Homo sapiens: one gene and its partners. The protein of the gene in region 1 purifies or fractionates together with the protein of each later gene. This does not show direct contact. Each region holds a gene or a part of one and is shown in the gene's direction. Other genes may lie near its edges.

Region 1 (2,631 bases):
TTGAACTAGTTGAGTTCATTGCTCATTGCAATGAGAGAGAGAACACACCATGAAGAACCATGGAGCATCTCAGCAAGAGGGTGTCAGAGAGGGAATGCTCGTAGGATTTAGGTGGCTTGGGGAGGGTTCAAAGACGCAGGACTTTTCTCTAAATTGTGGTGTCAGGAAGCAGGGGTTATGATTGGGAACCTTAATAATCTTATCTAGAGGCCGGGCACCGTAGCTTACACCTGTAGTCCCAGCACTTTGGGAGGCCAAGGTGGGAGAATCTCTTGAGCCCAGGAGTTCAAGACCAGCCTGGGCATCATGGCAAAACCCCATCTCTACAAAAAATAGAAAAATTAGCTGGGCATGGTGATGTGTGCCTGTAGTCCCAGCTATGAGAGGGGCTGAGGCAGGAGGATCACTTGATCCCAGGGAGGTTGAGGCTACAGTGAGCCATGATCATGCCACTGCACTCTAGCCTGGGTGACAGAGTGAAACCCGTCTCAATTAAGAATATATATATATATATATATATATATATATATATATATATATAATCTTATCTAGGAGCTCTAAGTGGTAAGGAAGCAGCAGTCACTCATATTGGCCAGGAGAGGGGGATGTCTGGTACTGTTGTGGTTTGCACAGTGACCTTGTTTTTGTCTGGCCTTAAACAAGATGATGAAGTGGTCTTGTTTTCATGTCATCCCAATCACAGAGTGCCTTGTCCTGTGAGATTGCTTACTTTGAGCAGGATGACCCCATGGTTAGACTCAGGCCACTTCCATGCATCAGGACCGCTTTTCCCTCCCTCCGTGAGGCAGAGCAATGACTGATGTGGGTGCAGCCTACTTCTCCTCTTGTCTCCATACCTGACTAGCTGTGTGACTGTGGGCAGGTCACTTCTCCAGCACCAGGCCTCCCCACCGGTAAATGGATTAATGCCACCTGCTCTCTTTAGGGCACATAGCTTCCAAAAACAAACAAAGCCATGTATCTGAGGGTGCTTTGAACGTAGGCAAGTGCTGTGCAACATGTCGGGTAGCCTGATAGGCTTGTGAGTGTGTCTGTGTGCATGGATGTCTCTGTCTCACGTGCAGTGAGCTGTGTCTTGTGTGAGGGCGTGTGTGCCCATATGTCCTGGGTGTCCAACCACAGAGGGCCTCCCTTGGGTGGGAGCCAGGCACGGGCATGGCACCCTCCATTCCCAGGAGGCTGTGATTCTGGGTCTTGGGGTGGCAGCTGGACGGCCAGGAAGCTATCTAGAATCTCACTGGCTTCCCATCCTCTGTCTCCTCCACCCCACTTCACTGAAGACAAGACATCCCCCTTCCTCCGGGAGGTGCAGGTCAATCTCATCGACTTCAAGAAATGCAATGACTACTTGGTCTATGACAGTTACCTTACCCCAAGGATGATGTGTGCTGGGGACCTTCGTGGGGGCAGAGACTCCTGCCAGGTGAGGGTACCTGTGGGTGGGGCTCAGGTCCCAGCACCCTGGGGATGGGGGAGGCAGGGGTGTTGGGGCTGATGTGGGAATTGGGACCCCACCCTTTCCCGCTCATGGACCACCTGTCCCATCCTGCGAATGTGCCCCCTCTCCCCTGCAGGGAGACAGCGGGGGGCCTCTTGTCTGTGAGCAGAACAACCGCTGGTACCTGGCAGGTGTCACCAGCTGGGGCACAGGCTGTGGCCAGAGAAACAAACCTGGTGTGTACACCAAAGTGACAGAAGTTCTTCCCTGGATTTACAGCAAGATGGAGGTAAGATCCCTGCAGCAGGACACTGCACCCAGCAGGCTGGGAACTTCCTCAGGTGGGGACCCTGGAGGAGCACCCAGGTTGTAGGCAGAGGTCCCCTCAGCGTCCCCATATTCGGGGGGTGTTCTGGACAGGGTCAAATGTGATGCCTGGGGTCAATCCCAGCTGTCTGTGTTTCTTTCCCTGCTTTTCTTCCCTCAGAACAGAGCTCAGCGGGTTGAAAAAGGGTGGACCTACAGGCCAGGCAGGCAGTTGCTGGGCAGATGTTCTCCCAGAAGTATTTTTTTGTGTAAGGTTGCAATGGACTTTGAAAACGTTTCAGTTTCTGCAGAGGATTTTGTGATAGTTTTTGTTATCAAGCATTTATGCATGGGAATCCGCTCTTCATGGCCTTTCCCAGCTCTGTTTGTTTTAGTCTTTTTGATTTTCTTTTTGTTGTTGTTGTTGTCTTTTTTTAAAAACACAAGTGACTCCATTTTAACTCTGACAACTTTCACAGCTGTCACCAGAATGCTCCCTGAGAACTACCATTCTTTCCCTTTCCCACTTAAAATATTTCATCAGAACCTCACTACTATCATAAAAGAGTATAAAGTAATAAAATAATAAAAAGTTATTTTATGTTTTTTGACTTGCTTTAACCTATATCCAACCTCAGAAGTCATTGCTCAGGTCAAACTGAACCACAGACCCTTCAGTGTGTGCCTTACCTTGCCCTTGGCCTTTGGAATACTTGATCCACCCTAGAGAGTCCCCTCTCCCACTTCCACCCTCTCATCTTCCATTTTTCTTACTGAAGAACTCTGACTAATCTATCAAAATCAGCCATTTACAATGCCTGGAATATCCTCGGTATTTACTATTTATTGTTATAAATTAAGGATGA
Region 2 (3,500 bases), on another chromosome or scaffold:
CAGAACCAAAGGAGTCAGGATGTATTTCACTGGATGGTCATGTTCATCCATCGATCTATTCATTCATTCACTATTCACCACTTTTTAAGGCACTATCATGTAACAGGCACCATACATGGAAATGGGAGTATTGACTACCGAGAATCTTACTGTGAATACAATCTGTATTTCAATTCCTTCCATTTAAGACACAGCACCTCAAATTTGTATTACAAACAAATCATGGGGTTGATGAGATGTGGTTTAGAAATAGGCTGGCGTTTTCTCTGAATATTTTTAATGTTCTATTAGTAGACCTTGGAATCTATCAGTAGAAGGGTGGCTCTCAGCAGGTGGGGGTAAGGAAGGGAGTGAGAGTGGTCTTGTCCCCAAGAGGACATTTGATAATGTTTGATGACATTTTGGTTGTGACTACTCAGAGAAGGATGTGCCACTGGCATCTAAAAGGTAGAGGCCAGGCATACTACTTAATAATTTACAATATACAGCACAGTGCTCCCCAAACCCCTGCCCAAAGAAAGAATTATCCAGCTCAAAATGAGCACAGTGCTGAAGTTGACACCTGAGATAGACTAGGGTCATCTACTGCTCAATAGCACACAAGCTGCAGCTTGCAAAGGACACCGCCTCATGTGGCAAGGACAGACGTCCTGAGCAATGTCCATCTTTACTCTACTTACTTTCAAGGTCCCAGCCTCTGGGAAGTGGGAAGAGATAGGCCATTTGGGACCATGTTTTCCCTCCCTCACAGTCTAATGCAGAAGAGGATAAATGGCACTGTGGGTCTCCCTTCATTAACGCTCCTCATTAACTCAGCATTTTCCTGCAGATTATATCAGGCTGTTACATAAGCAAGATGCCTTTTGAAAGGAGAAATGATCTCAAAGATATATCTGAAAGCTGACACATGTGTGTGGAATGAGAAAGACTACTCCTCATTTCACCTTGAGAAAGGCAGGAGGGAAGACAGGCTGGTAAGTTTATTGAGTGTCTATGGATCATAACCCTTATAGGATGTCAGCTTTCATCTTTTATTTTTTATTTTATTATTTTCTTTTTTTTTTTTTTTTTTTGAGATGGATCTTGCTCTGTCCCCCAGGCTGAAGTGCAGCAGTAGGATCTCAGCTCATTGCAACCTCCGCTTCCTGGGTTCAAGTGATTCTCCTGCCTCAGCCTCCTGAGTAGCTGGGACTACAGGTGCCCACCACCATGCCTGGCTAATTTTGTATTTTTAGTAGAGACGGGGTTTCACCAGTTTGTCCAGGCTGGTCTCGAACTCCTGACCTCAGGTGATCTGCCCACCTCGGCCTCCCAAAGTGCTGAGATTACAGGCATGAGCCACTGCACCCGGCCGGATGTCAGCTTTCAGAACCAGTTTATCCTCCATGTCAGCCCCTCCTATGGAGCATTCCTTACCCACAGCTTGGCTGGGCTGACCAAACTGATTTATCATACTGTTGTTGAGGGAGAGTAGAAACAAAGAGATTAGCAGATAACTACACAAACATACACAATTGCATACACATGTGTGTATTTCTGGGTTTAAGGAAGGAAACAGCATACCTGCTTCCCACAGTAGGACAAGTGCTATAATCTCGACTGACTAATGACCAAAGCTTTTCACTCCTTGGGTTCCGAAAGGATATAGATTCACACCACCATGCTGTAACATTCATTTTAAGCAAGTTTTTAATAGGAAATGTCTCTGAGAGCATGAAAAAAAATAGGAAAAGGATGTTATATAGTACTTAATCCAATCCTGTACCTAATCCAGCACAGAACATGTTTATCTATGTAGTGTTAACAAGACATTTCTGAGTTGAATGGGAAAAGCTTTTGCTGTGTGATGTAGACTGTAGAGAGCCTCTTGTCTGCCTTTTTCCTTTTTCTGTGCTTCCCCTTGTCCCGGTGTGCCATCTTACCTTTCAGTCCACTTATTTGGAGGCTTCATTTGGAGCCTTTCTCAGTTATCCTTAGGGCACCTCTTGGCTCCTTGGGGTTGGTTTCTGCCCCTTAAGAGGTCTCTCCAAGTGATCAGGCCACATCACACAGACCTTCTTTTTGCTTTTGCAACAGTGGTGGTTTTTATCTACAAGACTGTTCTCCCACTTGAGACAATCTGCCCTGAAGCAAACAGATGTTTGCATTGAGATCTCCCCTCTAGATGAATAAAATCTTCCCAGAGGCTAATGCTGGCTAGGAAAGGTTTTTTGTGCACCTATGAAGCGTAACTGAGCCCTGAGCAACCAACTTTGATGTATATTTTGTGATTGAGGAAGAAGAAAAAATCAAATAGCATTTCTTTCTGCCAAACTGTTTTTTGCAGATAAAAATTTTTGTTGACTGAAGACTTTATCCAATGTGTGCTTTGTCCTCTTCCATTAAAAAGAGTTCAGTTGAGATTGCTTTTTCTTATATTGTCCTTGAATTTTGTTCTCTCTGATGTTGCTTGCACATGATACTTCATCAGTAAAATGGATCACATAACTGTCTTCTAAATCTCCATCTTGTTTGGTTTGCTGAGAAACAATTTTCATCCAAGCATAAAGTAATTAGTTCAAAGAGTCAGATTTCAAAAGGTGGATGTCTACAGTCATGGTGAAAATGAAATGAGTACCCTTATTTTGGGAGGACATTAGCTTTGCCTCAGTACCTTGGATCTCCATTATTCATAAGATCTTAGATCAATGTGCCTTGAGGTAGCAACATTTGTCATAATTGGCTGATACATTAGCGTCTTTCAATACCAAATATTAACTTTGACTATGAGATCAGTAAACCATGTAATGATTTTTAACAAGAAATAATAATAACTTGACTTTGAGGATCAGTGAAGTTAATAGAAAACTTTTGAGACAATGGCATACTCTTAGACAACAATGTAAGCTTGGAATCTAAGAAAATGTTATTTGAGCCGTATTTATTGAAATGTGATAACTTGGTTTCTATACTCAATCACAAATACTAATTTAAACTTGGGAAAAACAAACCACAAGACATAGTGAGTGGGCAGTCTTGTTTGAACCATTCACTTTCAAAGTGGGCATAGCTCAATATTCAGAGTCCTCATATCAGCAGAAGAAAAAATAAAAAAAAACTGAAGGAGGTGTTACCCTCAGTAAAAGAGAAAATGATATTTTTATTCCTAAGACAAACATTTATTTCTCAAGACTTTGGAAAGCAATGAGTATCAGAGAATTTTTTTTTTTCTCTTTCTCTTTTTTTTAAAGCTCTTTGCAAATCCAGACCACACTATTGATTACTATTCATTGCTGAAGGCAGTATTCTGTATTCAATAAATTAAGCTTTAATTCCTAAGTCCAACAAAATAATTGACCTCAAAAAGAAGATAAATGAATAGGCTGCAGAGCTCATGATTAGAATCCACTTTCCAGTCTCATTGTATTAGTATTTTTCAATTCAGTGATTTTCCCATTCTTTTTTATCTTCTTTCACAATCTGTTACGCCTTCCACCCTGTTCCTGTATCAGCAAGGCCAA
Region 3 (3,500 bases), on another chromosome or scaffold:
GTTTTTGAAACAACATTGATATAAATTCTGCATGAGGCTACTGTCATTTGGAACTTATTCTTCATTTTTTATTCTTCAGTTTTTCAGGCCAAAGATGAAGACTTAATAGGCTGACAACTGCTTATGAGGGATAGAGACCATATTTAAAATGGAAGGTCTAGAACAAGAGCCCCAGAACCATGCCTTCAGGCCATCCTAATGTGCCCTGCTGAAGATAATTTTTTGGTGTCGGGGGGCAGGGCAGGGAGCCTAATGTCTGGTTTTTGTGGTGGTGGTTCTTTTATGTTGAAATCTTCTTCCATCCTGGGAAGAGGATTCAGTTATATGTAGAGCCTAGCAAAGTTGATTTTTAGAATTAGATTTTAATGGTTATTTTTTTTTTTGAGACAGAGTCTTGCTCTGTTGCTTAGGCTGGAGTGCAGTGGTGTGATCTTGGCTCACTGCAACCTCTGCCTCCTGGGTTCAAGCGATTATTGTGCCTCAGCCTCCCAAGTAACTGGGATTACAGGCGGGGGCCACCACATCTGGCTAATTTTTGTATTTTTAGTAGAGACAGGGTTTTGCCATGTTGTCCAGGCTGGTCTCGAACTTCTGGCCTCAAGTGATCTTTCCCCCTCAGCCTCCCAAAGTGCAGGGATTACAGGCGTGAGCCACCATGCCCGCAAGCCCACTTTAATGTTAAACTGTTGCCAAGATAATTTAGAATTAAGTCTGAAATGTTAGCTCTATCTTTACTTAAAAAATGGTTATAAAGAAGCGTATACTTTCTGGACATTGGACTCCTAGTGAAGGGGGCCTTTGGAGTTGGGTGTTGTTTGCAGGAGGACGAAACACCTGCTTTTCTGTCCTTCCAGGCACATAATTCATTTCTCTGGTATATGCCGAAGGTCAGGTTTTTTGTGTAAAATTGCTGATGGATCATTTGTAAAAACACATTTAAGTTGATTAGTCCTTGAAAAATGATCTTTAGAAAATGATCTTTACAGATACTAGTCCTTGAGCTTTCCTGTGGATCAGATTGCCTTGGGCGAAGGTCTGCAGTTTCACAAGCATGACTCACTACCTTTTATAGGTGAGAACATCAAATGGGCCAGGTGGAGGGTCTAGTAGAACTCTGGATTTCTTTTTAAATTTGTATCATACTATTTTGCTAATGGAAACTTGATGAATACTTAATTCCATCTGGCAAGTGAAAAGGGTCCCTTTTGGGAGTATTCGTTTTGTTAGCATTTTTAGTGATTTATTGTTTTGACAGTGTGATATTGGTCCTTGGATGCAAAAATACTCTGGAGACTATTTGGAAATTTCATTTTATAATTAACTAACTGTGTGATAATTGCTGGAGCAGAATGTGTGTTTTTTTTTTTTTTCTTTTCATTCTGGAAGGTTATTTGAGGTGAAAAACTTAGATTCTAATCACAAAGGCTTGTGTTCATGTGGTACCCTGAGTACTTTTGTAAGATACTCACTGTGTTGCTGTGAGTTATCTCTTTTATGGTTTTTTCTTTAAAACAAAACTCTTCTGAGTCTCCATAAAGAATAAGTATCTCATTTTGTTATATTAGATTTTGTGCAGTTGGCTGGCAAATTAAATTTAACTTTGAGGGAAAGCACCATTGACTCATTACATACATTTTGCATCATTGCAGCGTAAGGTCTTCCCTATGTGTGTGGGAGAAGTTTCTGATCTAAATGGGCATGTTTCCTATTGCTGGTCTATCTTTTAGCCAAAGCATTTCTGAATAGACATTCCTATTCATTTTCTTATTTTCGAGACTTTAGAGAGATTGCTACTTGTTATGTATTCGTGATAAATCATCTGAATCCTGAAAAAAATACTTATGCCAACAGCCCATTTTGTAAAGACACTTGTCTTTGAGCTTTTAAGCTGTCATACTCATTATTCGTTACAATAGCTGTACAGCCATTGGATGTATCATGTTTTTGACACAGGAGCTAGGGGAAGGATGACCTACTTGTTGCATTTCACATTTTTCCATATTTATATCTTTTTTCAATTTGTGGCATCTTTATTTCATTGTTAGAGTGGTTGTTCTCTAAGACGTTCCAGGTTTTAATTTCATTCACTGTGTGGGCTAAATAAGGAGCTTTCCTGTAGAACCAATTCTACTAAATTCCTGAAAATGTCAGTTAAAAATTAGCCAGGCATGGTGGTGTGTGCCTGTAGTCCCAGCTTCTCAGGAGGCTGAGGCAGGAGGATGGCTTGAGCCAGGAGGTCGAGGCTGCAGTGAGTCATGATCATACCACTGCACTCCAGCCTGGGTGACAGAGTGAGACCTTGTCCCTACCCCCACCACACACACAAAAAAAGAAAATATGAAGAAAAAAGAAAATGCTTCCAAAAAGTATCCCATCTAGATACCATGCTGGTTAGGGCTTTTGGTCATGTTTGAATGGGACATAGCTGAACACAGAGCAGGATTTCAATGGGTAGGCTAGGAAAAGGAGAGGAGTGTCTAATTTGTTGGGAGAAAATCCACTTTTGCATAATAATAGGGGATTTACGTGTTTTCTTTGGAGTTAATATGTATTTCAAGTAGGTAGATAGGTAAGAGGTTTGCAAAAAAATTTTGCTAAGGTTGAGGTTCTGTAGTTGGCAACTCTTATAACCCTGAAGATCCTGTTCTCTAAAGCCAGGAAAAAGCAGTCTGTTTCCAATTATGTATCACAAAAAATAGTGAAATTAAGCCAAGAAAAATGATCATTTGGGAGTTGGGTTGCTTTTTTTTTTGCAGAGGGTAAAGGAGAAAGGACTGTAGACACACATTTTAAAGAATCTGCTAGTTTTTCTGTTGGCTTTCAGATTTTTCTCAAATGCTCTGTATTGGAAATTAAGAATAATTTTAGGATTAAAGGCCTTTTCCTCCTTCGGCTTCTTTTTGTTTCTCAGAGAGCAAATAGAAGAGCATTTAGGCAGTTTTTGCTGACATGAAAGGGTTTGGGTCCAGTGTTCCGGGACCCAGCTTGTGTTTTTGGTAAAGCCTTTTCCTGCCTGAATGGTCCCAGGTTATGGGCTCACAGCATCATACCTGGTAGTGGTGCTATGGTTTTTGTTATATGAATTTTTTTACCATGCTTTGAACTGAAATGTAGTCCCTGCTGCCTAGCATTATTCTGCTGGAGGAGAAAACTAGGGATGTTAGTGTGGGAAAGGTATGGAGGTGCGAAGCCTAGCATTTGGATGATGTGTGGGTGAATATATTGTCCTCAGCACTTGTCAGAAGCAACTAGCCTTTCGGGATGCCTACTGCTAGTTTCAGGATTAGTGGTCCTGTGAGACCTAGGTGTTAACTAAGAAATCTCCTTTCCACTGCCAGAAGATCAGCCCCGGCAGGTCTTAGTTCCTGTTTCTCACACCTTACACCTCCACAGAGTGTTGAATAAGACTTTCCTGATGCTGCATAATCTTTGATAACTCTTAGTCTTGTCACTGAGGCTAATGTGTTTTAGCTCTTGGTGCTTTTCTTCTCACCTCCCAT
Region 4 (3,500 bases), on another chromosome or scaffold:
TAAAATTTCAGTACCACTCAGTGATTGATTTATTTGGTACCTCTGTTACCAAGCACTTACTATGTGCCAGGAACTCTAGGCTGAAAGATATAGCAGTACCTACCCCCATGTTGCTAATAGCCTAGTTGGGGAAGATGACAAAGAATAAATTCTAAGTCTAGTATGTGTTTTAAAGAAGTCTGGGTGCCATGGGAGTATATACAAAAAATTGCCATTAAAACCAGATCCTGAGCTGGGCAGAGTGGCTCACACCTATAATCCCAGCACTTTGGAAGGCTGAGGCCAGTGGATCACTTGAGGTCAGGAGTTCGAGACCAGCCTGGCCAACGTGATGAAACCCTCATCTCTACTAAAAATAGAAAAATTAGCTGGGCATTATGGCTCACGCCTGTAGTCCCAGCTACTCGGGAGGCTGAGGCAGGAGAATCGCTGAAACCCAGGAGGTAGAGGTTGCAGTGAGCCAAGATCGCACCACTGCATTCCAGCCTGGATGACAGAGCAAGACTCCTTTTCAAAAAAGAAAAAAACAGATCCTGAGAATAAAGATAAGCACATTTATAGTTTGGTTAACTATAAAATGGAGTAAAATGTTAATTGACATGGTACCTCATAATTTCCTGGTGTTATGAAACTATCTTTCAGATCTTTGGGGTTCGTTATGGAATTTGCATAATTGGCAGTGAAATTTTTCTTACTTGCAGATTTATAAAATGAAGCATTTGGAAAATTCACAGTGTAACTTTTTTTGTTTTTTGAGACAGAATCTCACTCTGTTGCCCAGGCTGAAGTTCATGGCGCGATCTCGGCTCGCTGCAACCTCCACCTCCCGGGTTCAAGCAATTCTCCTGCCTCAGCCTCCTGTGTAGCTGGGATTATAGGCACGCTCCACCGCGCCTGGCTAATTTTTGTATTTTTTTAGTAGAGGTGGGATTTCACCATGTTAGCCAGGGTGGTCTCACACCCTTGACCTCAAGTTGTCTGCCCGCCTCAGTCTCCCAAAGTGCTGGGGTTACAAGCATGAGCCACCATGCCCAGCCACAGTGTAAATTTTATTTGTAATTATTGGATTTCTGGTTCAAGTTGATGTTTGAAAAATAAAAAAAGAAAAATATTTTAAAAATATAATTATTGGGAATTTTGTATCAAATGATTTTCTGGTTGGTTTTACCTGTTAGTGCTTCCTTCATTGCCCCCCACCCCGCCTCCCAAATAGAGGTTGGAATCATTATCCCTCATCTGAAATACTCTAAAATCTGAAGCTTTTTGAGCACTGACATTCCTTCCTTTGCCTGTGTCATAGAAGGAAAAAATTAAGCCAATGAGAGATTGCTAGAGGTAGCAGTGAGAAGCCTCTACTGTCTTGGGGGTGGGATAGGGTGGGGCATGGTGGTATACTGTGAAGGATCTGAGCTCTCTATTCACTGACTGGAGCTGTTGCATTGACATTAGATCCATCCAGTTAGTAGGATGACTGGAGATCTAACTTAGCTCATCTGTCTTTCCTTTGCATAGGAAATTAAGGGATCCAAAAAGCTGAGTCATGGTCCAAAAGGAAACGTTGATGTCAGGACAGCCATAGCCAAATTTTATCTCAAGGGTAAACATGAGACTGGGTAGGGATGGCTGTCAGTGCCTGGGGATTGGTGGGGCTTGGGGGTAGGTAGAAGAAAAGTGTCCTGGGTTAACTACTTGTTTATTTTTTTCATGGACACAATAAATGACCTGATCTTTCCTTGTTAAGGGCTGGGATTTATTTGAACCCTCAGGACAGGCTAGAAAGAATTGTGACTTTTTTTCATGTTAATACATAGGTAGCCTATGTTACCAAATTTTATTTTTTAAGATAGTTTATTATTTTTATTTTTTGAGATGGAGTCTCGCTGTGTGACCCAGACTGGAGTGCAGTGGCACGATCTCAGCTCACTGCAACCGCCACCTCCCGGGTTTAAGTGATTCTCATTCCTCAGCTTCCCGAGTAGCTGGGACTACAGGTGCGTGCCACCACGCCCAGCTAATTTTTGTTTTTTTAGTGGAGACAGGGTTTCACCATGTTGGCCGGGCTGGTCTCCAACTCCTGACATCAGGTTATCTTGCCTTGGCCCCCCAAATTGCTGCCATTATAGGCCTGAGCCACAGCACCCAGCCTTATTTTTATTTTTTTGAGACAGTCTGGCTCTGTTGCCCAGGCTTGAGTGCAGTGGTGCGATCTCGGCTCACTGCAACATCCACCTCCTGGGTTCAAGTGATTCTCATGCCTCAGCCTCCCAAGTAGCTGAAATTACATACGTGTACCACCATGCCTAGCTGATTTTTGTATTTTTAGTAAAGTTGGGGTTTTGCCATGTTGGCCAGCCTGGTCTCGAACTCCTCACCTCATGTGATCCTCCTGCCTCAGCCTCCCAAAGTGCTAGGATTACAGGTATGAGCCACCACGGCTGGCCTGTTACCAAATTTTCATGATCTGCAGTTCAAATCCTGGCTAATGACTAAACTTACCTTTGGGAGGTAAAAGGCAGAGAAGAATCATATCTGTTTTCTAAGAAGGACCTTAGAAGATTAAGATGAAACAATGTATAAAAACAAAGTAGCTTATACTTGCATAACTGGGCAGTTCACTGTTTTTATCAGTATAATCCTTTTTTTGCAATAGCAATTCAAAGAGCTTTTCCAGTGGTTGAACAGCAGTCATGGGTTTAAATTATGTTTGCTTATAACCACAAGAATCTTTATAGAGAACAAAATGTTTGTACTCTGGACTATCCTAGAGAATTCTACGAACATAGACTGTAATCATGACATTACTGTAGTCCTGTATATGCAAAAAGAATAAAAGCCCTCCTTTGACTACTCCCTTGCCTTCTGCTTCTCCCCCATCTTAGTTTCTACCCATGGGGTAACCACTGTTGCCAGATTTTTCTTCACAATTGTATGTACTGTACCTTTTTGAAATCTGGAAGTTTAAACTTCAGGCAGTTTTCTTTTTTTTTTTCCGAGATGGAGTCTTGCTCTGTTGCCCAGACTGGAGTGCAGTGGCGCGCCTTCCAGGTTCATGCCATTCTTCTGCCTCAGCCTCCCGAGTAGTTGGGACTACAGGCACCCGCTGCTGCGCCCAGCTAATTTTTTATATTTTTAGTAGAGACAGGGTTTCACCGTGGTCTCGATCTCCTGACCTTGTGATCCGCCTGCCTCGGCCTCCCAAAATGCTGGGATTACAGGTATGAGCCCGCGCCTGGCCCAACTTCAGGCAGTTTTATTAGGAGTTTAAACTTGAGGCAAGAGGACAATGAAAAGAAGCTCTTCACCATCTCCCACTATATATATAGATATATATAGTGTAAATATATAGGAGTAAAATTTGTATTAGAATTCCAGCTCAGGCACAGTGACGTATGCCTGTAATCCTAAAACTTTGGGAGGCTGAAGTGGGAGGATTGCTTAAGGCCAGTAGTTGGAGACCAACCTGGGCAACATAGCCAGACACTGTCCCTATAGAAAAAAAA
Region 5 (3,500 bases), 6.1 Mb from region 1:
ACCCAACAGTAGTGAAAGTTCTCCACCATTATGTGGACACTGGGGAAGGCTGTGGTTAAAATGTCTATACCAGTTTCCTTTATGCTTTCTGTGGTTCTGAGAGCATAGGCCCTAAAGTTCTTTGTAGTTTGCTTCATTTGGCCAGAGAAGAGTCCTGTGTAGGTTAAAGGGAAATCTGGTTAAGATGAGTCATGTTGCTCCATTTGAGAAATGGCTTCAGTAGCTTGGCTTTACTGGGTAGTAGTTTCTTATGCTTCATAAAGACCCTGTGTCAGTCATTAATGATTAAATTAAAACTTGTTTTTTAAGTGTTGACTTTAGCCTTTGCCTTTTACGTTTGAAATAGTTTTATAGATAAAGATATGTTTGAGGGTTACTCCGGAACAAAGTATTTCTCCCATAGTGTGTTCTCAGTGCCATATATTACATTTCATTCTTTTTCTCTACACCTGATAATTTGCTTTATTTGATAAGTCTCTCTGCCCACATAGTAATTGACAATAAGCATTGGCACTTCTCTGGTTTTTTGATGATATGACCATTTGGTTGTGAATTTCACTGCTAACAGTTGGTGAAATGGGTCAAGAGACATCTAATTATAAATTTCTCAATGATTTTGGACTGACTTGTGACCTCTGCCTCTGTGCTCCCTGGTTGAGGTTTTAGCAGAAATATTTTTTCTTCAAGAGAAATGTTTTTCACATGATTTTCCTGGCTTGTTTGTTTCAAGTACATTTAGCAATATTATCCCCCTGTGTTTTTCTTATTCTCCTTGTGTTTCTGACAGTTGGCAGCTTCAGTTCATTCCATCAGAGTTCAGAGGTCAGTTACCAAAACCTTTTGCAGAAGGACCTCTGGCCACCCGGATTGTTCCTACTGACATGAATGACCAGAATCTAGAAGAGCCATCCAGATATGTAAGGGCTACATTCTCTTCTTGCTTCTCTGAAAAGAATTCTATGCCTAAAAGTCTGTTGGTGTGTATATTAGAGCATTGATAAAATGAGAATTTCTTAGAAAGCAATTTTTTTAAGGCCGGGTGCTGTGGCTCACACCTGTAATCCCAGCACTTTGGGAGACGGGCGGGATAATTGCTTGAATTCAGAAGTTCGAGACCAGCCTGGGCAACATAGCAAGATCACATTTCTACAAAAAATTAAAAAATAAGCCAGGTGTGGTGGCTTATGCCTGTAATCCCAGCCTTTCAGAAGGCTGAGGCAGGAGGATCACTTGAGCCTCGGAGTTCAAGGCTGCAGTAGGCCATGATTCCGCTACTGCACTCCAGCCTGGGCAACAGAGTGAGACCCTGTCTCAGAAAAAAACCGGATATTTTTTAGGATGAGGGGTATAACAGCTTTTGTTGAAAAACAGTAAACAGTATCACTTTTATTTTCAAATTAACCTCTTTATTTTCTATGTAAAATGTATAATTTAATTTTGAAGGTTTTGGGTAGGCTGAAAGTTTTCTTACGGTAGAAGTTTGAACCATTATTCTGAAACTCATATCATTCCTTGGCCTATTAAAATCCTTAATGAGGAACTTTCAAGTTATCAGGTGGACCTTTGACCTAGCTATTAGTATATTCCGGTTTTAACAAATGAACAGTAAAGACTGTTTCCATACTGAATGCCAGGGAGCAGCCTCTGTCAGGGCCATGATCTTCTCCCTACTTGTCTTTACACATTCTGAGATCCCATGCGAATTTTACTTCAGTTCCTTTGAAAGATGACACTTTTGACATTTGATACCTGTGAAATCTTTGATAATGAAAAAGGTAAGAAGTAATAAAGATAATGCTCCTTTTGGGTCACAAAGACAGTGTAAGATCGTTGTCTAGAATTATTAGAAAGCACATTTTTTGATAACCTGATAACCTGTCCGTTAAAGAAATATGTAACAGTTTAAATGTCAGCTATATTTAATTTACATTTTCTTATGTCATATGCTTAAAATGTAAAATAGCAAGACTTCCAATTCTCTTCTGAAGCAAACCTGCAGCCACATCTGGTCTTTTGTCTCCCAGATTGGGGCTGGTTAGAGTTCCATGGAGACCCTCAGGGTTTATGAGTGAGATTCTTATTGTATGAGCTGTAACTATAAGCTATGAAAATGGACACTTAAAGACACAGCCTTGAGCTGTTCCCTTGTAAGACAGGCGTTTCTGCCACATGGATTGTATTAGAGCTTTATTCTTTTAATTTAAGGCTCTGATTCCTGTTACAATGGAAATACCCTTGGGCAGGGTAGACTGTTACAGGTCATTTTAATTTTATCTGCAGATATGAGTCTCCTGAGTGCAGGGCATCATTCTAGAGAAGCTGGACAGTCAAAGGGTGGGAAAATACACTGTCATAGGGGGACAGTATGAATTCAGAGTGATGTTATCGGAGCTTTGCTTTAGGAAGAGGTAGTAAAAATGGAGTAGTAAAAAAAAGAGCGTGGACTTTGGAGTTGAGTAGGCCTGCATTCAAACCTCAGCTCTGTTGCTAAACTTGATAACCTTGGGCAAATTAGTTAGCTTCTCTGTTTAATTTCAGTTTCTGTCTGTAAAATGGCACCTACTTTGGAATTATGATATTTGATATTATATCTCTCTGTAGCAAAAATGCAATGTTCTTATGCTTGCACAAGTGTTCTTAATCTGATAATGGTATATTAGACAGATTCCAGGTAAAGAAACCCAATCTCTCCCCTTCCTTCTTTTTATTGTTTCCCATCCTTGTAATTTTATTCCAGTGTCTCCAGACTCATCATTGCGTTTTCCACCCCAGTGACTTCGCTTATATTGGTGACTATGCCTGAACTACCCTTGTGTCTCTTCTCACACTATCAAAATTATCTTCCTCTTTGAAGTGAACTATTTAAGTCCATATTGAGCAGACCTTCCTTTAAGTGTCTTCAGTATTTATCTGTGCAGTTCATTTAGCCATTTAATTTTCTTGGTCTTAGTTAAATATTTCTGATATCATATCTTTCCACATCAAATATGTGAATGCCATGAAGAGAATGACTGCACTTTGTTTCTTTTGTGTTCACCATAGTGTCTAGGACGGTGTCATGTACCCAGTAGTTCACTTTTACATGCTTTCTCAGTGGATAATGAATATTCATCGTCATTGTGGTAATGATGTTGAGAGAAAGCTGGCTAGAAAATCTACAGTGGCCTTTTGCACATTTCTTAGGCTTTTATCACTGGTTGTCTTAGTTAGATCATATTTCCATATTCTCTGCTGTCAGACAGTGTTAAATTTGATTAAATGACTCTATATGAGCTTTACCCGAAAGGTGATGATTTTTCAGGATGCCAGTAGGAGTCACCAAAATGCTGGCTGATAAAAGCAGGGAAAAACAAGTGATTTATGTCTGCTGGGTAGCAGCTGTGTCCAGCCCTTTGAATGCGAGGATTTTTTTGCTTATCTGTGGTGGCAGAATCATGAAAATTAGGCATGGACCTTTAGCTCTGGGTGGCAGGTTTTAGCCAGCCTTTGGCTTCAATGCT
Region 6 (3,500 bases), on another chromosome or scaffold:
CCTTTTAGACATCTGGAGAACAATATCCCCAGGTCACTTAACCCTTATCTCCTGCAGTATAATGCAGTGCGTCCAGCTGATCTACCAAATTGAATGTGTGCCTTTGAATACGAAGCAGTTGTTTTGTGGCCTGTGGCATTTCATTTAGGTTTCTAAGCTGTAATAAATTAGTATGTTAATTTACTTCTTTCCATTCACATATTCTTTAAATCCAAGCCTAGAAACTGATAGTTATATGTATATTAAAATCATTGGAATATTGGTTTTTTTGCAGATAGTGTTTGGGCTGTTTATTATCCATAGCTCTTCATTATGTAAATAGAATCTCAATGCTGATAAAGTAAATAGATTCTTCCATTTCATTAATGGTTATTTTTGATTTATGATAAACTGCATTTAATAAATCTCTTGATTTAGTTAAATGGTGGATACATCATTTCATATTATAGCAAATTGATAAATATAAAAGAAAGTTTTACAATCATAAGAGTAAATATTTAAAAAAACTTGAATAAGTTACTTTACTAAACATAAAATTAAGATTTTTAAACAACTCTGAAACTAAAAGTATTACTATTATGGTACCTTTTTTTTTTTTTCCCCCAAAGAGATGTGATCTTGCTGTTTTGTCCAGGTTGGCCTTGAACTCCTGGGCTCAAGCAATCCTCCTACCTCAGTCTCTTGAGTAGCTGGGACTATAGGCATGTGCTACCACAGCCAGCTTTATTATAGTACTTTTGTACCCTGCATCAATGCTGCTTCTGTTGATACTTTTCAAAGGAGATATCAACTTCTGGTCTTCAACAGTAGTGTAGCATCCTCTTATTGATTCTCTGGCTCATATTTCACTACCGTATAGTATGGAGTTTCTTTCTTGGAGTTTGAATTGTTTTTACATTGCAGCTTGTTATAGTGAAACAATTAAACATATTTAAAAGTAAAAGATATTTACGACTGATTTTTAAAGAACCTGTAAAAAAATCTCCAACAGAAGAATATTATATGGGGATGTGTAGATTTAACATTTTATTTTCTTTAATTTTTTTTTTTTTTTTTTTGAGATTGGGGTTGGGGGTTGTCTCTCTATGTTGCCCAGGTTGGAGTGCAGTAGTGGCGTGATCACGGCTCACTGCAGCCTTGAACTCCCTGGTTCAAGCCATTCTCCCGCCTTAGCCTCTGGAGTATCTGGGATTATGGGTGCATGCCACCATGCGTGGCTAATTATTTTTTAATATTTGTAGAGATGAGACCTTGGTATGTTGCCCAGGTTTGTCTTGAACTCCTGGGGTCAAGTGGTCCTCACACCTTGGCCTCCTAAAATGCTGGGATTACAGGCGTGAGTCACTGTACCCGGCTCCTTTATTTTATTAAAAAGATTTTTGTTTGTTTGTTTGTTTCTAAGTTTAAAAGAGACAGGGTCTTGCCATGTTGCCCAGGCTGGTCTTGAACTCCTGACCTCAAGTGATCATCCCACCTTGGCCTCCCACAGGCGTGAGCTACCATGCTTGGTTGTAAGATTTTTAAAAAATGGATTAGTTTCAAATCTCAACTTCTCTTTCTTTCAACATTCTAATCTCCTGGCATTTTTTTCCTTTCCCCAGCTACCCCCCATCATCCAACAGTCTTCCATTTGGAATAATGGGAAATCAAACCAATAAAGTTAATCTTACCTCCCACCAGGCAAAGGTTTTTCTTAATCTCTACAATATTCTGAACATAAAACCCATATAAACTTTATATGATACTACACATTTTCCTTTTAACGGAGGAAGAGCAAATGGGACCTATGGAATTATGCCGTATTTGTCAATATAAGGGTTACTTTTGTACTCTTACTGAAAGCAGAGTTATAGGGCTAATTTCATTTAAATTTTCTTACCCATCTACTTTAAAAAAATACCTCTTTGTGGTAGTCTTTTTTTTGGTCAGAAAATGACAATGTGAAGGAGAAATACGTTTTGAATTTATAAATCTTCTTTTAATTAACAAATTATACCAATATAAGGGTAGTGTTAATGTGGTTCAAATTTGCCTTTGCTATTCTGCCTTTTCTTCTATAGTGATTGTATAGTTATACTATAACTTCTTCCTCGAAGCACTGGAATAAAAGAAAAACTTTTAAAGATCACTACGAAATGCTCACTGTATTTGTTGTATTTTATAACTTGGGTTTTTAAAATTTATTTTTCCATAAACTGAATAAATATGAAAACGAACTTGAAAGATCTTGTCACAGCCTTGATGACTGGTCAGTATAAAGTTCACATTATAAAATAATAAAACATTGATAATAATCTTAGATGAAAATGGAAAATTAAGCTAATGTTTATTTTAGAACCTGAGTAATGAGTTTATATCATGTAGCAATGAGGCACATGAAGACGGTTAGAATTAGTTTTTCTAATGAATAAACTTCATGATATAAACTTGAAAGTGCATAAATGCTATAACTTTCTGATTGTAAACTTGAACAAAAGTAAAATGAAAATGGGAGAGTCCTCTTAATTACCTTTAACGTATAACTAAAATGAACCTGTGTATCTGTCTAAGTCTTATTTGATCAAGACTTTCAATGGACAATGAATGAGTTTTAAGTTTTTATCAATGTTGTGACTGATTTTTCTATAATATCCCTTAAATGAGATATCAAATTCTAATAATATCTAGAACCAGATTAAATTTGGTTAGAGTATAAACAATATTTACAAACCATCAAAACTATAATAAAAGCATTGTAATGTTATTTAATGACTTAAGCCAACATTCCATAAGCTAATCTAAGCATTTTTACAATTAATACAATTGATAGTAATATCTTAATTAGTGGTAAAGTGGACAGATATAATTTATAGATTCTGTATTGTCTGGGACCTTGGGGCAGTCAGTGAAGAGAGGGAGATAGAGAGAGGAGCATACTGGTTGATGAGCTTGCCTTATTTGGAGATGAAGGAGATTTATTCAGTTTTTCTCTTTCCCTCTACTTACTTCTCCTTGTTTGTCATCCTCTTCTAGCAATGGTAAGAAATGCGGGAATTGACCATCTTTACAGTATACTTTTTTCCTTAGAGTTCATAGAACATTTCCAGGTAAAACATTAGCTTTTATGTTATAATAGGTTTATTATAATGATATCATTTCCTTTTGAGGTGGTAGGCAAGAGACTAGAAGAACTTCATTTGTATAGCATTTAATATTATTTATTAAAAATGATTTTATAGGCCGGGCGCGGTGGCTCATGCCTGTAATCCCAGCACTTTGGGAGGCCGAGGCAGGTGGATCACCTGAGGTCAGGAGTTGGAGACCAGCCTGACCAACATGGAGAAACCTCATCTTTACTAAAAATACAAAATTAGTCGGGCATGGTGGCACATGCCTGTAATCGTAGCTACTTGGGAGGCTGAGGCAGGAGAATCACTTGAACCCGGGAGGCTGAGGCAGGAGAATCACTTGAACCCAGGAGGCGGAGGTTGCAGTGAGCCGAGATCTTGCCATTGCACTCC
Region 7 (3,500 bases), on another chromosome or scaffold:
CCCCGTCTCTACTAAAAACACAAAAAATTAGCCGGGCGTAGTGGCGGGCGCCTGTAGTCCCAGCTACTTGGGAGGCTGAGGCAGGAGAATGGCGTGAACCCGGGAGGCGGAGCTTGCAGTGAGCCGAGATCCCGCCACTGCACTCCAGCCTGGGCAACAGAGCGAGACTCCGTCTCAAAAAAAAAAAAAAAAGGGAAGAGGAACAAACCTAAGCTAACACGTTAGCATGCGTATCCCTCATGCCATGTGATGCTCTGTGCCACCTCAAGACTCTTCAGAGGAGAGTCCTCAACAGCAAGAAGGCTCTTACCAGATGTGCCCCCTTTGGCCTTGGACTTTCTAGCCTCCGTAACTGTAAGAAATAAATGCTTTCTCTTTATAAATTACCCAGTTTCAGTTGTTCTGTTATAAATACCAGAAAATGGACTAAGACATAATAGCAAAGTGGTTAAGAGTCTGAATTCCTGATTCAGATTGCTAGTGTGACTCTCTGTGTCTGAATTCATCTGTAAATGGGAATACTAGTCCGTACTTTATAGTTTGCAGATGCTCTTAGTACAGGGTTCAAATGTTAACTGTAATTACCTCTCCTATTTTTGTTATTGCTAGAGAGAAACCTGTAATGATAATCACAAAATATTAATAATTGTTGTTTCTGGGTAGTAGGACTTGTGATGATTTCTTCCTTCTAAATCCTTTTTTAACAATGAATAGCATAAAGCTGTCCCTTTAAAAATAAAATTAAAATATAAATTTTAGTTGTCCCGGGAGTTCTTTTGTATCTGAAACCTCAGTTGTCAAGCTTGGAAATCTGTACTTTTAAAATATCCTCAAGCGATTCTGATTACACATCAGGTTTGGAAGCACTTGGCATAAAGAACTTCCCCCACCCAATTCAAAGAAATAGTATTTAAGCCCTCATAATGTGCAGTGTGGTTAAGCTGTGTCTTTTTCCAGTCTAGTCTACCTCAACACTCTTGTGGACATGATTTTTGCCAAAAATCTGAGTGAGCTTTGGGATGCATTCTACCCCCATGAGATGGCTATTTTATCCCAGGAGCAGGAAAAAAAAAAATGGGAGTTTACAGTTATTTAGTCATAAGGCCGGAGTCCTTTAAATTGGAAGGGAATGTGGTAAACACAACACAAGAGGAGCCAACACATTCTGAGTGTGCTGATACTCTGGGGGAGAAGAGTAAGAGAGTATGACAGGCATCAGACAGCATCACAAAACATTTTAAAGTTAAAAACAATTACGTAACACCAAGAAGTCAGTTTTCCTTACATTCACTCCAGGATAGATGCCTTGCTTAAAAAGTGCCTCTTCAGCTAAGAAAAACTGTGTCCATAAGTACTTCAGTAGCTTTCCACAAACAGTAACTGTTTTTGTGTTATAGAAGTAGGCTTGTTCTGAAGCTCAGCATGTCCTTGGAATATGATTGAGTAGCATGTTAGTATTCATAGTTGATGGAGCTGGGTTAGCACTTCTTTAACTTCAGATATCCATATGATGATAGAAATAGGAATTTTCTCTGGTCCTGCAGTCCTTCCTCTTCTCAGTCACAGTGCTTTCTGCCTAAGTGGTACTGAATGGCATTGTGACTACTGCTTTCTTCTCCAGTGCCAGGAGCGGTAGACTCTGCAGCAGTAAAATACTGTCTTTGTTCTTTTCTGAGATGGTGAAGTGGCTGTGTATGGTATTAAGGCAAAATCACAGCTAGGACAAAAAGCAATGGAAAACCAAGATCAGTGTGCTGTAAGGCAAAGTGTTAGTGAGAGAATCAGAGGATGTAGAGAGTGACAACTCAGTATCTGCTAATGCTCCAGGTTCACTGCTTCAATCGTATTCTGCTTGTCTTCCTCCATAAGAAATTAAGAGTTAAAACATCTTTCATTTACTTCTCTTGGCTTCATGTTTTCAATTCATGGTACTTTCATATCACATACCTCTATTGTAGATTGTCTTGATCATGTATACTGCTAAAGGAAGGACTTGTATAATATCGAACAGATACTTGACTAATCAGTTCTCTCTGGCTGTTTGAATGAAATTTCAAACCAAGATTTCTGGTTAGAGCAAGGTCTAATGAACTGGTCCTCAGACAATCGAGATATTTAGAATTTCAGAACAATCACTTAAGACAGGAGGGATATGTTTTATTGTATCTTTTGGATATAAAGATTACACTAACGGCCAACCTGAATGAGGGAAAGGGGGCAGTAGGGAGGCAGAATTTGAGACCCCCTCATCAGAGAAAACAGCAGAAAGACATGGTAAACTTGTTTCTGGTTTTCCTGTGGCAAATTTGATTGGGTGTAGAGAGAAGGATCGTTGAGTGGGGCTATGTACTCATCATCCATGAAGGCCTACCTTTCTGAACTTGAAGGTACAGTCAGGATAGAGCAAAAGGTGTAAACATGTATCTGATAGTTTCAGATGGTTAATTTACATCTCAAGATACTGGGCAGCTTTGCTTATACTGTGCTGTTCCTTCACCTCTCCTCTTCCTCTTAGGGTTTTTCTTCCCAAACTGGAATTACAATTCAGGAGAGAGCCTGAAATATAAGATATATAATGCAGCATAAGCATGGTGTGTTGTCATGGCATGTCAATTTTACTTGTAGATTTTGGGATATTTTTATATCAAATATGAATATATTAAGTATGTACTTAATGGGATAAAGACACATGAATGGGTTTTTGTATACACTTTTTACTGAAATAAATGTTAATACAGAAAAGTATGTAAAATCATAAATGTAGAGCTTAATGAATGTCACAGAGAACAAGCCATGTAACTACTAGTTTTTTTTGTGGTATCAATAAGCTTTCCTTTAATTACTGTTTGTATGGTATATTTTTCTATTATTTTGCTTTCAACTTTATAAATCTATTTAATATGTGTCTCTTGTAAGCTGCATGTAGATGAGTTTATTTTTCTCGAGTCTGGCTGGCAATCTTTATTTTTTAATTGTAGTTTTTAGTCTATTTGCTTTTAATATAATCATTGATATGTTTGGTTCTAAATCAACCACCTTACTATTTATTTTCTATTTGTCTCATCTATTCTATATTCCCTTTTTTTTTTTTTTTTTAACATTGCCTTGATTTGGGGTATTTTCCCATTTCATTTTTTTGTATTTGAATTTAATTATATTGTTTTACTGTTTGTTTGTTTAAAGATTATATTAGACATCCTTGGTCTTTTAAAGGCTATTATTAATCAGTTTTTTTTTTTTAAACAACTCCTGGACAGTGAAATGACTTTAGAGCTCTTAAACTCTATGGATCCTCCTTATACTTTTTGATGCCAGTTTTGTAATTTGTTTTAATGGTAATAATACTAATATCTTGTGAGACTTTCAAAAAATGTTTTATTATAGCCAATATTTATTTGGATTTACTTACATACATACCCTTTTTATGACTCTCCCTTCCTTCCTACATCTCTGAATTTTTATCTGAAATTCTTTTCCTTCTGCCTGAAGAATTAGAAATA

Evidence for each region.
Region 2: the proteins of TMPRSS13 (region 1) and GPC6 purify together in Homo sapiens (affinity purification with mass spectrometry; one large-scale study listed by BioGRID and IntAct). This does not show direct contact.
Region 3: the proteins of TMPRSS13 (region 1) and TGFBR3 purify together in Homo sapiens (affinity purification with mass spectrometry; one large-scale study listed by BioGRID and IntAct). This does not show direct contact.
Region 4: the proteins of TMPRSS13 (region 1) and FAM177A1 purify together in Homo sapiens (affinity purification with mass spectrometry; one large-scale study listed by BioGRID and IntAct). This does not show direct contact.
Region 5: the proteins of TMPRSS13 (region 1) and ALG9 purify together in Homo sapiens (affinity purification with mass spectrometry; one large-scale study listed by BioGRID and IntAct). This does not show direct contact.
Region 6: the proteins of TMPRSS13 (region 1) and FUT8 purify together in Homo sapiens (affinity purification with mass spectrometry; one large-scale study listed by BioGRID and IntAct). This does not show direct contact.
Region 7: the proteins of TMPRSS13 (region 1) and C1GALT1 purify together in Homo sapiens (affinity purification with mass spectrometry; one large-scale study listed by BioGRID and IntAct). This does not show direct contact.

Annotation. Positions count from the first base shown.
Region 1 is NC_000011.10:117,902,772-117,905,402, reverse strand, and holds part of TMPRSS13 (transmembrane protease serine 13), read left to right. Parts: intron 1-1,301; coding exon 1,302-1,444; intron 1,445-1,595; coding exon 1,596-1,748; intron 1,749-1,951; coding exon of another isoform or gene 1,952-1,966; exon of another isoform or gene 1,967-2,361; intron 2,362-2,631. UniProt on the Homo sapiens protein: Serine protease. Cleaves the proform of PRSS8/prostasin to form the active protein. Cleaves the proform of HGF to form the active protein which promotes MAPK signaling.
Region 2 is NC_000013.11:93,824,807-93,828,306, forward strand, and holds part of GPC6 (glypican-6 precursor), read left to right. Parts: intron 1-3,500. UniProt on the Homo sapiens protein: Cell surface proteoglycan that bears heparan sulfate. Putative cell surface coreceptor for growth factors, extracellular matrix proteins, proteases and anti-proteases. Enhances migration and invasion of cancer cells through WNT5A signaling.
Region 3 is NC_000001.11:91,876,152-91,879,651, reverse strand, and holds part of TGFBR3 (transforming growth factor beta receptor type 3 isoform a precursor), read left to right. Parts: intron 1-3,500. UniProt on the Homo sapiens protein: Cell surface receptor that regulates diverse cellular processes including cell proliferation, differentiation, migration, and apoptosis.
Region 4 is NC_000014.9:35,049,272-35,052,771, forward strand, and holds part of FAM177A1 (protein FAM177A1 isoform 1 precursor), read left to right. Parts: intron 1-3,500.
Region 5 is NC_000011.10:111,833,582-111,837,081, reverse strand, and holds part of ALG9 (alpha-1,2-mannosyltransferase ALG9), read left to right. Parts: intron 1-787; coding exon 788-917; intron 918-3,500. UniProt on the Homo sapiens protein: Mannosyltransferase that operates in the biosynthetic pathway of dolichol-linked oligosaccharides, the glycan precursors employed in protein asparagine (N)-glycosylation.
Region 6 is NC_000014.9:65,415,730-65,419,229, forward strand, and holds part of FUT8 (alpha-(1,6)-fucosyltransferase), read left to right. Parts: intron 1-3,500. UniProt on the Homo sapiens protein: Catalyzes the addition of fucose in alpha 1-6 linkage to the first GlcNAc residue, next to the peptide chains in N-glycans.
Region 7 is NC_000007.14:7,227,544-7,231,043, forward strand, and holds part of C1GALT1 (glycoprotein-N-acetylgalactosamine 3-beta-galactosyltransferase 1), read left to right. Parts: intron 1-3,500. UniProt on the Homo sapiens protein: Glycosyltransferase that generates the core 1 O-glycan Gal-beta1-3GalNAc-alpha1-Ser/Thr (T antigen), which is a precursor for many extended O-glycans in glycoproteins.